Linked DNA regions of Homo sapiens: region 1 is linked to region 2. The links come from fine-mapping of genetic effects on gene expression. A gene starts in region 2. The other region holds a variant in brackets. All regions are shown on one strand. Distances are between the middles of the regions.

Region 1 (5,383 bases), 31 kb after region 2:
CCTTGTTACCCACACTGCAGAAAACTTTGGGAACTTGAACCTTGTTCGTATCTCATAACTCAGAAGGGCACCTCCAGACTCTTAATTGTACAGCCACTGGAGACCTAAAGATAGAGATAACCAAGGAAGTTTCTCCCCAGAAACAGATGGCATCCCAGATATGAACAACTTTTTCCCAAGATCATGGATCAAGACTTCTCTGCTACCGTGAGACTTGTATCTCTCAGTTTTTCCTTGCTTTTGCCTTGATATGGTTTGGATCTGTGTCTCCACCCAAATCTCATGTCTAATTATAATCCCAAATTTGGAGGTGGGGCCTGGTGGGAGGTGATTGGATGGTGGGGGTGGTTTCTTAGGTTAACGTAAGAAACCCCTTGGTGGTGTCATTGCAAAAGTGAGTTCTCATGAGATCTGGTTTAAACAAAAGTGTGTGGCACCTCCCCACTCTCTCTCTCTTGCTCCTGCTCTGATGATGTAAGATGTGGCCTGCTGCCCCTTTGCCTTCTGCCATGATTGTAAATTTCCTGAGGCCTCCCCAGAAGCCCATCGGAGGCCAGCATTATGCTTTCTGTACAGCTTGCAGAACTGTGAGCCAGTTAAACCCCTTTTCTTTATAAATTACCCAGTCTCAGGTATTTCTTTATAGCGGTGCGAGAATGGACTAATACAGGCCTCTATGAAAAATAGAACTGAAAATAAGGTCTCTTTTGTACACTCATGGAGTATACTTTTATTAGTGGAGGATTTCGAAGCAAACCTTTTATATGGACACCCTTACGTCTTGACAGATGAAGGATAAAGGGCCAATGTGGATGAAAAATTTTATTGGTATCTTTGTTGCTTCATAATCACTCAGAAACAGAACACTGGTCCACTCCTCTTAACCTATGTCATAGGTTAAAACATTGCCAAGAGGCCTTCACTCTTCTAGATAGGCATCATTTATTAGATCTTTTTTTCTTGGTTTAGAGTAAATGAGGCAATGATTAAAAATTTATCCCTCATAATAGGCTAGATAACAGATTCTACTACAGAGACTCTGGTTACACAACAGATTTTAAATTCTCTTGCTAAAGTTGCACTAACTAATAGAATTGCTCTGGTTTACTTACTGGCTAAACAAAGTAGTGTCTGCAGTTGCTGACACATCTAATTACACACGGAGGAATACATAGGGTATTATAGAGACTCAGTTGTAGGGGATTAATGGACAGGCTGCTTGGTTGAAATGAGTAAACTCTTTATCGAGTTTATTGTTTGATCTATTTGATTTTAGTTGGTTTGGTTCATGCGGAACCTGGATACAGAGCATACTCCAAACTCCTGGTGTTATCCTTCTGATAGTCATAATTGTAATCTCCCTGGTGTGCTGTATTCTCTCAAAAGTTCTAAATGTTTGTACGTAGCCATCTCCAGAATGTCAGATGGTCTCTCCTAGATTGGAATGACAATAACTCAAAGAATTGTGTGGCCATAAGGACACCGTAACCTATGAACTATGTGCTGAGACTGAAAACCCAAAATGATGGTAAGCGAGAGTGGAGCTCATGGCCTAAGTTTTGGTCACACTCTCACCTAAGTGAGAACCTGACCAGAAGGGGGAAAATTTTAAACAAAATTATAGGAGGCAATTGTTTTGGACTGAGATTGTGCATTAGACCCCAGCAGACCAGACCAAACCAAAACAGAGTCACTCAAATGTGACATGATCGATCTGAAACTTTAAGAAAACAGACCAAAAGTTTTGCTTTTCTCTTAAAAACAGGAGACTGCAGTACAAAGAGGTCCCTGCTACTCTAATCCTTAAAAAAAAAATAACCTGAAGTCCTTGTTTCCACCTCACAAACCCACTGTTCTGCTATTTCCCAATGGGATTTAGGACCAAATAGGTACCTTTATCATGGTGACAGAGTGACATCAGTGCCTAAAGTTTTGGTCTATCTCTCAAAATTAAGAGGATGACCAAAAGGGGGGAATTATCAAATTAAGTTTAGCTTAAAGCTGCTTCCTTACATATTCTAAGTTCTGTCTAAAGGTTTCTCCTACACTGTAAACTGCAACCTAACTGGATGTGTAAACAGACTGTAACCTACTATTGTGCCACTCATTGAATTTCAGCCAGTCAAGGGCAGTCAACTGTTCAAAGCGTGTTTAAATAAGGCAAATGCCAACTATAACCAATCCAGCCGTTTCTGTACCTCACTTCCTTTTTCTGTCTGTAAATCTCCCACCAAGTGGCTGTGCTAGTGTCTCTCTGAGCCTACTGTGGCTCAGGCGAATACCTGACTCACACATTGGTTTTTGCTCCACTAAATTCTGTTAAATTTAATTTGCCTAAGGTTTTTCTTTTAAAAGCCCCAAAGTTAAATGCCTCTGTTGTCTGCACACCAGCAAAATAGAAGCCTCATGCAGCCCTCGTGTCAATACAGTACTCATTTGTGAATTAGCAGTTACCTGAGTGCTTCTGATTGGTGGAGGGTAGGTCACATGAATCAATTCCTACATGACTGCTTCTGATTGGTGGAGAGTAGGTCACATGAATCGGCACCTACATGACTGCTTCTGACTGCTGGAGGGTAGGTCACATGAATCAATGCCTACATGAGTGCTTCTGATTGGTGGAGGGTAGGTCACATGCCTGTGTCCTAACTGCAGGGGATACCGGGAGTTTGAGTTCTTGACTTCTATTTCGGGAGGCAGGACAATAATAAAGGAATTTCCTCCAGAAAGAAAAGCTGTCCGTAAGATGATGAGCCGCCATCATGAATGTGACAGGTGTCCATTACACTGACTCACCCTGAATGTCACACCATAGGAAGTGAAGTTAGATGTCCGAACACATTCCCCTTTTAAAATCCTGCTCCTTTCTTAAAATATGGTTTAGAGCAAAGAGTTTTTATTACATAGTTTTTTGAGGTATAATTTTACACGCAGTAAAAATTACCCATTCTAGCGTACAGGTCTAGAATTTTTTAAAAAATAAATTCATACAATTATGTACTACCACCAACAACATACGGTATATAATAGTTTCATCACACACCACTGTTCCCTCACGTGTCTTTGTAGCCA[A/G]CCCCTTCCTCTACCCTCAGCTCCTCACAACCACTGAACTGGTTTCTGTCTGTAGTTTTTGGAACAAAGACTTTCTAAGCAAAGAACAAAAATGGAGCAGAAGAGAGTCTGTGTGTAAATACCAATGTATGCATGTTGGAATCTCCCCCTCCTTGGCTCCTGTCCTGGGGGTGAAGAAAGATAAAGATTATTGAAAACAAATTGAAATGATCAAAAGTATAATTTCTTTTCAATGTCAGATTTAGGGCTTAACTCAGGAAGATGGATGAGCTCACTATTGTGGCTCCGGCTCACTGCATGAATTCCTGTTTAGAGTGATAGGTAAATAGCACCTGAACAAATGCAGCCTGCCCTCAGATTCAGGTGGAGGAACCCACACCTTAGAGGTCTTTCTCTGGCCTTCCTCAGACGGTACCCTTGTCAGGTGAAGGACTGGTCCATGTCCCCCCTTCTATGTCACACTCCAGGTCTCAGGACCCAGTATTCCCGGCCCAAAGAGTCCTCAGCCACTTTCAGGCTTGCATGGGCCTCTTCCCAGGGAAAATCCTCCACAGGGTAGACTGCACAGCTTGGTATGCACCCCTAGACTCTGTTGATGACCACGTCCTGGCTGTTTATGGTGGCTGTAGATGACGCTTAGGTATCCAGGCTGGGGAGTAGAGAAGGGGAGCTGAGGGGAGAGTCTGAGAGTTCTCGAAGGAGTCTGAGAATTCTAAATTTAAACATGACCCTTTAGGTCGTTATGAAAATGTATAGTTTCATTATGAAATGGAACCTATTTTATAAGTCTGTTAGCTCTATTTATAATGTAACTATCTGGGCAGGTAGTGCGTAGGCCTCTGTTTGTACTCTTGCCTGGGCCCTGCAAATATTTGAGACAGGCCGAAATGAATCTAACTGTGCTTCCTCAGAGAGTTACCAAAGCTCTCTGCAGGCCAGGCTCCCTGGTGGCAGCCCTGAACCCCTTTCCTGAGGATGTGGGAGAGGAAAAGAGGGAGACATTTCTTGGATGTCTGCTATGTGCTGGAATCTGACCTGGGCTGTTTCCCTCACATCATCTCATTTGGGTCTCCCAGCTACTTGCCAGATAGGTATGTCATTGCCAATGTATAGATGAAGAAATGGAGGCCTAGCAGCATTTAAGAGCCTTAAGTGCCCAAGCTGGGATTCCAGCGCAGATCTGCGTGGCTTCAAGTCTGGCCGTCTTCCATGCTGCCATTAGAGTTCTGTCCACCTTGGCTCTCCTCCCCGACAGGATTCCCAGAGGGCCCGAAGTCAGTTACTTAAATGGGTTGAAATCAGACATGTACTATGCTTTGGGGAGAAACGAAACCAAACCATAAATTTCCCGAACCTTCTCTGGTTGGCCCTGTTTTTGTTCCAAAGCAGAAAAGGGCAAAGTACAGGAGGGGGCTGGGGCAGAGAGAGTGCAAACACATGGGTACAGAAGGCACGTGATAATTCGCTGTGGAAGCAAGAGAGCGGGTGGGTGCGGACGTGGGTGGGAGTGAGGGCTGAGACCAAGAAGTTTGGCTTTTGAGTCAGTCCTGGTTTTAAATCTAGGTCCCACCACTTACAAATTGTTCAACTTAGACCAAGTTGCTTAACTACATAGAATCTCGGTTTCACTATCTTCAAAAGATAATTGATAATAGGGTTTCTTCTAAGAGTCTTTGTAAGGAGGAAACGAAATCGCATCAGTAAGGCCCCAGCCCGCAGCAGGTTCTCGACAACATTCATTCCCTTCCACCCTCTCCTTCCTCCTATTGACAGAGTTGCTTCAGCCCATTTTGGCATTCTGTAGATTTCTACAGCTGAGAAATCCAAAAATAAACTTGAATTATGGTGGGTTTAGCACCGAGGCACTTCTGTGTAAATAGCAGAAGTGAAAAGAAAAAAAAGGCCATCTCATTTCTAGTATTTGAAACCAAGCACCCTCATCGTGTGGGCGACTCATAGTAGAGGGGGCAGGGGGAGCGAGGTTTGGCATTTTTTCTCTGCTGTTTTTGTTTTTGTTCTGTGATGATGTGGGGGACTCTCCAGGGACATCATGCGTCACAGAGCAGGGGAGAAAGGGGAGGTGAAGACAGAGCAAGTAGGGAAATTTGATCCGGTCTCTGACGTTGTAGGGCAGAATTGGGGAAAGAGGGAGTGTCGGTCAATGGGTGGAAAAGGTCCCGTGGCTGTCATGCCCTTCTTACCTCCTGCCCCGAGACACAGTTGGGCAAGTCCCTTAATTCATTTTTCAGTGAGTTTCCCAAGAAAGGCCGTCTTCCGGAACATGTGTTATTCCTGAAATACATGGCAGACT
Region 2 (5,383 bases):
ATTAGCTTCAGCATCCCCCTTTGCCACCATTTATGTCCGAGCTGTGAGGCACACATCTCTCATGGGTTCATTTTTTCCTTGCTTTGCTTTTGAGAATTATGAAAGATCTTCGGTCTCATTGCTCGAAGGTGGGGAGGGTGCCTCAGAGCTGCTCATTCAAACCGTGAAAAAGGCCAGCTCAGCCCTGCTTGGGAGTTTTCATTTTGTGTAACAGAAACCCTCCCTCCTCACCCACCTCTTGCTCCTTGCTGGGCAGATGAAGAGCAGAACAACAGATCCTCCAAGGCCCACCCACCCCATCAACGGCCCAGAGAGCCCGTTTTGAGTAAAGCTTGTCAGCGGCTTCCCCTCCTACCAGTATTTCGGGTTTGACCGTTGGGGCTCTCTCAAGTTGAGTGAAGTGGCAAGAATATCCCTTCTTCCTGGACCAGAGATTACCCTCTCTCCCTGCATCAAAGCCTAGGAGTCTAGCACCCCTAAACCTAGTCTGGGGTAAGACACTCTGCACATCTTCCCAACCCCCTGTTCAGTCATGTAGATGGCTTGAAATCAATCAGCCAGGGTGGGAGAATTTACACCATGGAAATTGGCAAGCACTACAAATTCAGGACTTTCCCTCCACCCTGGAGTCAGCTACCAGTGCTCCACCCCGGGGAGCTGCTTTTCAAATGCCCAGTAGCACACCACTGGGCACTGCTTGGTTTCCTTCCTGGAGGCCAGTATGAAAGGCTGGAGCAGGGTCTTCTGTGGGTGACGTCTGTACTGTGGGATTGTGATGGGGGGTGGTGGAGGGGGTGCAGGGGAGTGGGATTTAAGGGTAGATTGGCTGGGAAATGAGGCATTTGGAAGAGATTTTCAAAAACTAAACTCTACGGAGTTCTTGATACGGTGTATTCATTCATTCCGCAGACATTTTCTCCTCACATCCTCAAAGCACCTGAACCTGCCTTTCAGGAGTTCACAGTCAGTGGGTGGGGTGACCACTTTAACCCTTTCACAGCTGTTTGCTGGGTCCAGATCCAGCGTTCAGGGCAGGCGGGAAAGTAAGAGATGAAATCAAGGAGGCTGTGGTGTGGCGAGGAGGGGTGTGAGGACAGCACCAGGGAACCTTCACTTTTTAAAGCCAACCCTTTGCGGCTTTGAGGCCGCCGTGGTGCATTGTTTGCTGGTGAGACAAGCCATCTAGGAACCTGGTCTTCTTAGCCTCAGCCTGGTCTGACTCCACAGCTGAGATTTATAAAGGGGGCGTCTGGAGCTGGATGAACCACTCAGAACACCCTCAGTGCTTCCCCTTGACCCCTTCTAGGTTAGACCTGAGAAAGGGCTTTCTAAAGAGTAGAGTTATCTGCCGGGGCAGAGTGCGTGAGGTTTGCTCAGGGGCAGGGGCTGTGCTGAAGGCCTGGCTATGATTTCTCCAAGCTGAGTGCCCCTTGCCATCCCATTCCATGTTGCCTGCCCGTTCCTTAACTTGCAAGAGGCAACAGCAAAGCCAGATCAAAGCAGGTGGGATGTGCAGCAGAGAGAAAGCAACCAGAGCTTGCATTTGCAATGCACCGCACCATTCTCACAACCCAGTCACGTTTCATTTGCATCTCCTCATGACCCCAAGTGGACAGGTATATGAATATTTGGCAGGGGAGAAAGGTGGGAATCAGAGAGTGGGTAAAAGGTCCTAAGCTCTCTAGGGAGAATTTCTCTGTTGAAACCTGTCCCCAGAGGTCCCAGAGGGCCTAACCTATCACCCTCATGATGAGAACAGGTTCTGCCAGACCACCAAGCCCAGCCCCGCCACTCTCTTATGTCCCTGCTGTTTTAGAAAGACATGATCTCGGCCCCTCCCTTGTCCCCACTGGCACCAAAGGCTGACCCCTTCTCCAGGTCTGAAAGGGCAGGTGCACCCCTCCTGGGACAGCAGGGGGCATTCTCTGGAAGTAGCTTCCAATGCCCACCAAATCAGAACTGATTTCTCCAGGAAGCACCCCTATGCGCTCCACCCGCATCCTCCACCCCCATTCCACAGGGTCAGTCTGGGTGTCCAAGACCCTGGTACTGTTCCTTCTCACATGAAGAGGCTCACTCACCCAGGTCCATGACGCTCTCTGGGCGGTAAAACCACACAGGAAGGCTGTGCCCGGCCTCGCACTACCCCTGTCTGGGGAGGAAGTGGTTCAAGCCCCTTTTAAGTTGTCGGAGAAGCCACCCTCTTCCCTGCCCCTCCCACCCTTGCTCCTCCCCCCAGCCCTCCCTGACTCATGCAGGGCCCCTTCAATGCCTTCAGAGATAAAGGGGCAGAAGAAAGGTGACAGAGGGTGACAGTCGCTGGTCATAGGATCCTGAATCATTAGGTCATTTACATTCAAAAAGCCCCCTGCGCTGCCTGGCAGAATCTAGATGAGGGGCCATTTACTGATTCAACAAATATTTATAGCATGAATATCACATGCCAGGCCATGGGTTAGATGTTGGGGAGTCAGAGATGTGTGAGAGAAGTGTCCCCATCCTTCCCTTGCTCTGCTCAGTGTCACAGTGGAATATAGTCCCAAATGGCTTTCCCTCTGGCTTCTGGGTAGTTTAGGCCAATGGGAGGCACTGACACATAATGACAGGTAAAAGGGAAGAGATATGCCACGATGTATCTTTTTTCTCCCCCCTTCCCCTCCCCTCCCCTCCCTCCCCTTTCCCTCTTCTCCCCTCCCTTCCTTTTCCTTTCTTAATGACAGCTTTATTGAGCTATAATCCACATCCCATAAAATTTACCTTTTTAAAGTATAGAATTCAATGGTTTTTGTATGTTCACAGAGTTATGCAACCATCACCACAATACATTTTAGAACATTTTTTCTCACTCCCTCTCAAGAACCCTGTAATCACTAGCAATGACTGCTCCCCTCCCCTCCTGTCATCGAAAGCCCCTGGCAACCACAAATCTACTTTCTGGCTCTATAGATTTTCCTATTCTGAACATTTCACATAAATAGAAGTATCAATATGTGACCTTCACATCTGGCTTCTTTCAGTTAGTGTTTTCAAGGTTACCTATGTGGTGGTATGGATCCATTCCCCATTCCTTTTTATGGCTGAATAACATTCCATTGTATGGATATGCCACATTTTGTTTGTCTGTCATCAGTTGGATGTTTGGGCTGTTTTCCCTTTTAGCTATTATGAATGATGCTGCTATAAATATTTATGTGCAAGTGTTTGTGTGGACATATGCTTTATTTCTCTTGGGTATATACCTAGAAGTGAAATTGTTGAGTCATATGGTAATTATATATTTAACATTTTGACGAACTATCAAACTGTTTTCCAAAGTGACTACACCATTTTGTTCCCATCAACAATGCGTGAGGGTTCCACATTGTCAACAAAACTTACTATTGTCCATTCTTTTGATTCTAGCCATCCTAGTGGCTGTAAAGTGGTATCTCATTGTGTTTTTTTTCTTTTTTCTTTTTTTTTTTTGGAGATGGAGTCTTACTCTGTTGCACAGGCTGGAGTGCAGTGGCACGATCTTGGCTTACTGCAGTCTCCACCTCCTGGGTTCAAGTGATTCTCCTGCCTCAGCCTCCCAAGTAGCTGGGACTACAGGCACGTGCCACCATGCCTGGCTAATTTTTGTATTTTTAGTAGAAACGGGGTTTCACCATGTTGGCCAAGCTGGTCTCAAACTCCTAACCTAAGGTGATCTGCCAGCCTCGGCCTCCCAAAGTGCTGGGATTGCAGGCATGAGCCACCATGCCCGGCCTCTTTGTAGTTTTGATATGCGTTTTCCTAATGACTACCTATGCTGAGCATCTTTTCATGCTCTTATTGACCATTTGTATTATTTTTTGAGAAATTTCTATTCAAATCCTTTGCCCATTTAAAAAATTGGGTTATTTATTTTTTATTATTGAGTTGTAAGACTTCTTTATATATTCTGGTTACAATCCCTTATCTGATACATATCTGTAAATATTTTCTCCCTTACTATGGATCATCTTTTCACTTTCTTGATAGCGTCCTTTGAAGCACAAAGGCTTTTTGTTTTTTAAAACCTGAATCTCTGGCAAAAGAAGCGCAAAGTTTTAAATGTGGAGGTTCAATTGATTTATTTTTCTTTTGTCAATTGTGTCTTTGGTGCCATATCTAAGAAACCATTGCATAATTCAAGTATACAAAGATTTATTCGTATATGTTCTTTTAAGACTTTTATAGTTTTAGCTGCAACATTTAGATCTGATCCATTTTGAGCTAATTGTTGCATATGGTGTGAGGTAGGGATCCAGCTTCATTTTTTATATGGATATCTAGTTTTCCCAGCATCATTTGTTGAAAAGACTATTTTTTCCACCATTGAACTGTCTTAGCACCTCTGTTGGAAATCAATTCATCATAAATGTAATGGTTTATTTCTAGACTATCAATTCTATTTTATCAATCTCTGTGTCTGTCCTATGACAGTACCACACTGTCTCGATTACTGTAGCTTTATAGCAAATTTTGAAATTGGGAGTTGTGACTGCTCCAACTTTATCTGTCTTTTTAAACATTGTTTGACTAATCTGCATCTCTCTCTTTTCCATATGAATTTTAGGTTATCAATTTCTGCAATGAAACCAGCTGGGATTCTAATAGGAATTTCATTGAATCTGTAAATCAATTTAGGGAGTATTGCCATTCTAACAAAGTCTTTTGGTCCATGAACATGGGATTTTTTTCATTTATTTAGGTCTTCCTTAATTTCTTTATACTTTTTAGGCTGCAAGTCTTTCACTTCTTTGTTAAATTTTTTCTTAAGTATTTTACTCTTTTTGATGTGCTTGTAAATGAAATTGTTTTCTTAATTTTATTTTCAAAGATGGCCAACTAGAAGCAGGTATGGGGCATGGCTCTCTCAGAGAGGAACAAAGGGGTGGGTACTTCAAAACCTTTATCTGAAACATCCAGATACTTGCATTGGGACTGATTAAGGAATCAGCTCGACCCACAGAGGATAGAGGAAAGCAGGGCAGGGCAATGGCCTACATAGGAGCAACACAGACCCAAAGGAAACCCCCTCCCCTCCCCCCACCAGGGAAGTGGTGAGTGAATGTGCAAACCTGGGGAATGATGCTTCTCCCACCGATCTTTGCAACCTTTGGATCGGGAGATCCCCTGTGAACCCACTCCACCAGGCCTTTGGGTCTTACACACAGAGCTGCATTGGATTATTGGCAGAGCAGCTGCTCAGGCATGCACAGACACCCAGGAGCTTTACATACTCAGGCTCCGGAACCCCAGCAAAGGTGACCGCCATTCAGGCAAGGCAGGAGGTCTGTACATACCCCTAGGAAGGAGGCTGAATCCAGGGAGCTGAGCAGCATTGGTCTGTGGGCCTCACTTCCACAGCACCTCACCA

What was found.
Region 1: its variant is fine-mapped to the expression of CCR7 in lymphoblastoid cells (GTEx, PIP 0.96).

Annotation. Positions count from the first base shown.
Region 1 is chr17:40,594,226-40,599,608 of GRCh38, forward strand. No RefSeq gene overlaps it. Among named protein-coding and RNA genes, the nearest start is that of CCR7, 31 kb to the left of the region's middle. RefSeq lists enhancers at 3,736-3,945, 4,372-4,666, 4,874-5,173. The variant A/G (reference allele first, on the strand shown) is at 3,073.
Region 2 is chr17:40,563,319-40,568,701 of GRCh38, forward strand. CCR7 (C-C motif chemokine receptor 7) reads right to left here and starts at 2,154. Exons shown (of 3, transcript NM_001838.4): 1 at 2,082-2,154. The coding sequence starts at 2,091. RefSeq lists an enhancer at 793-1,709.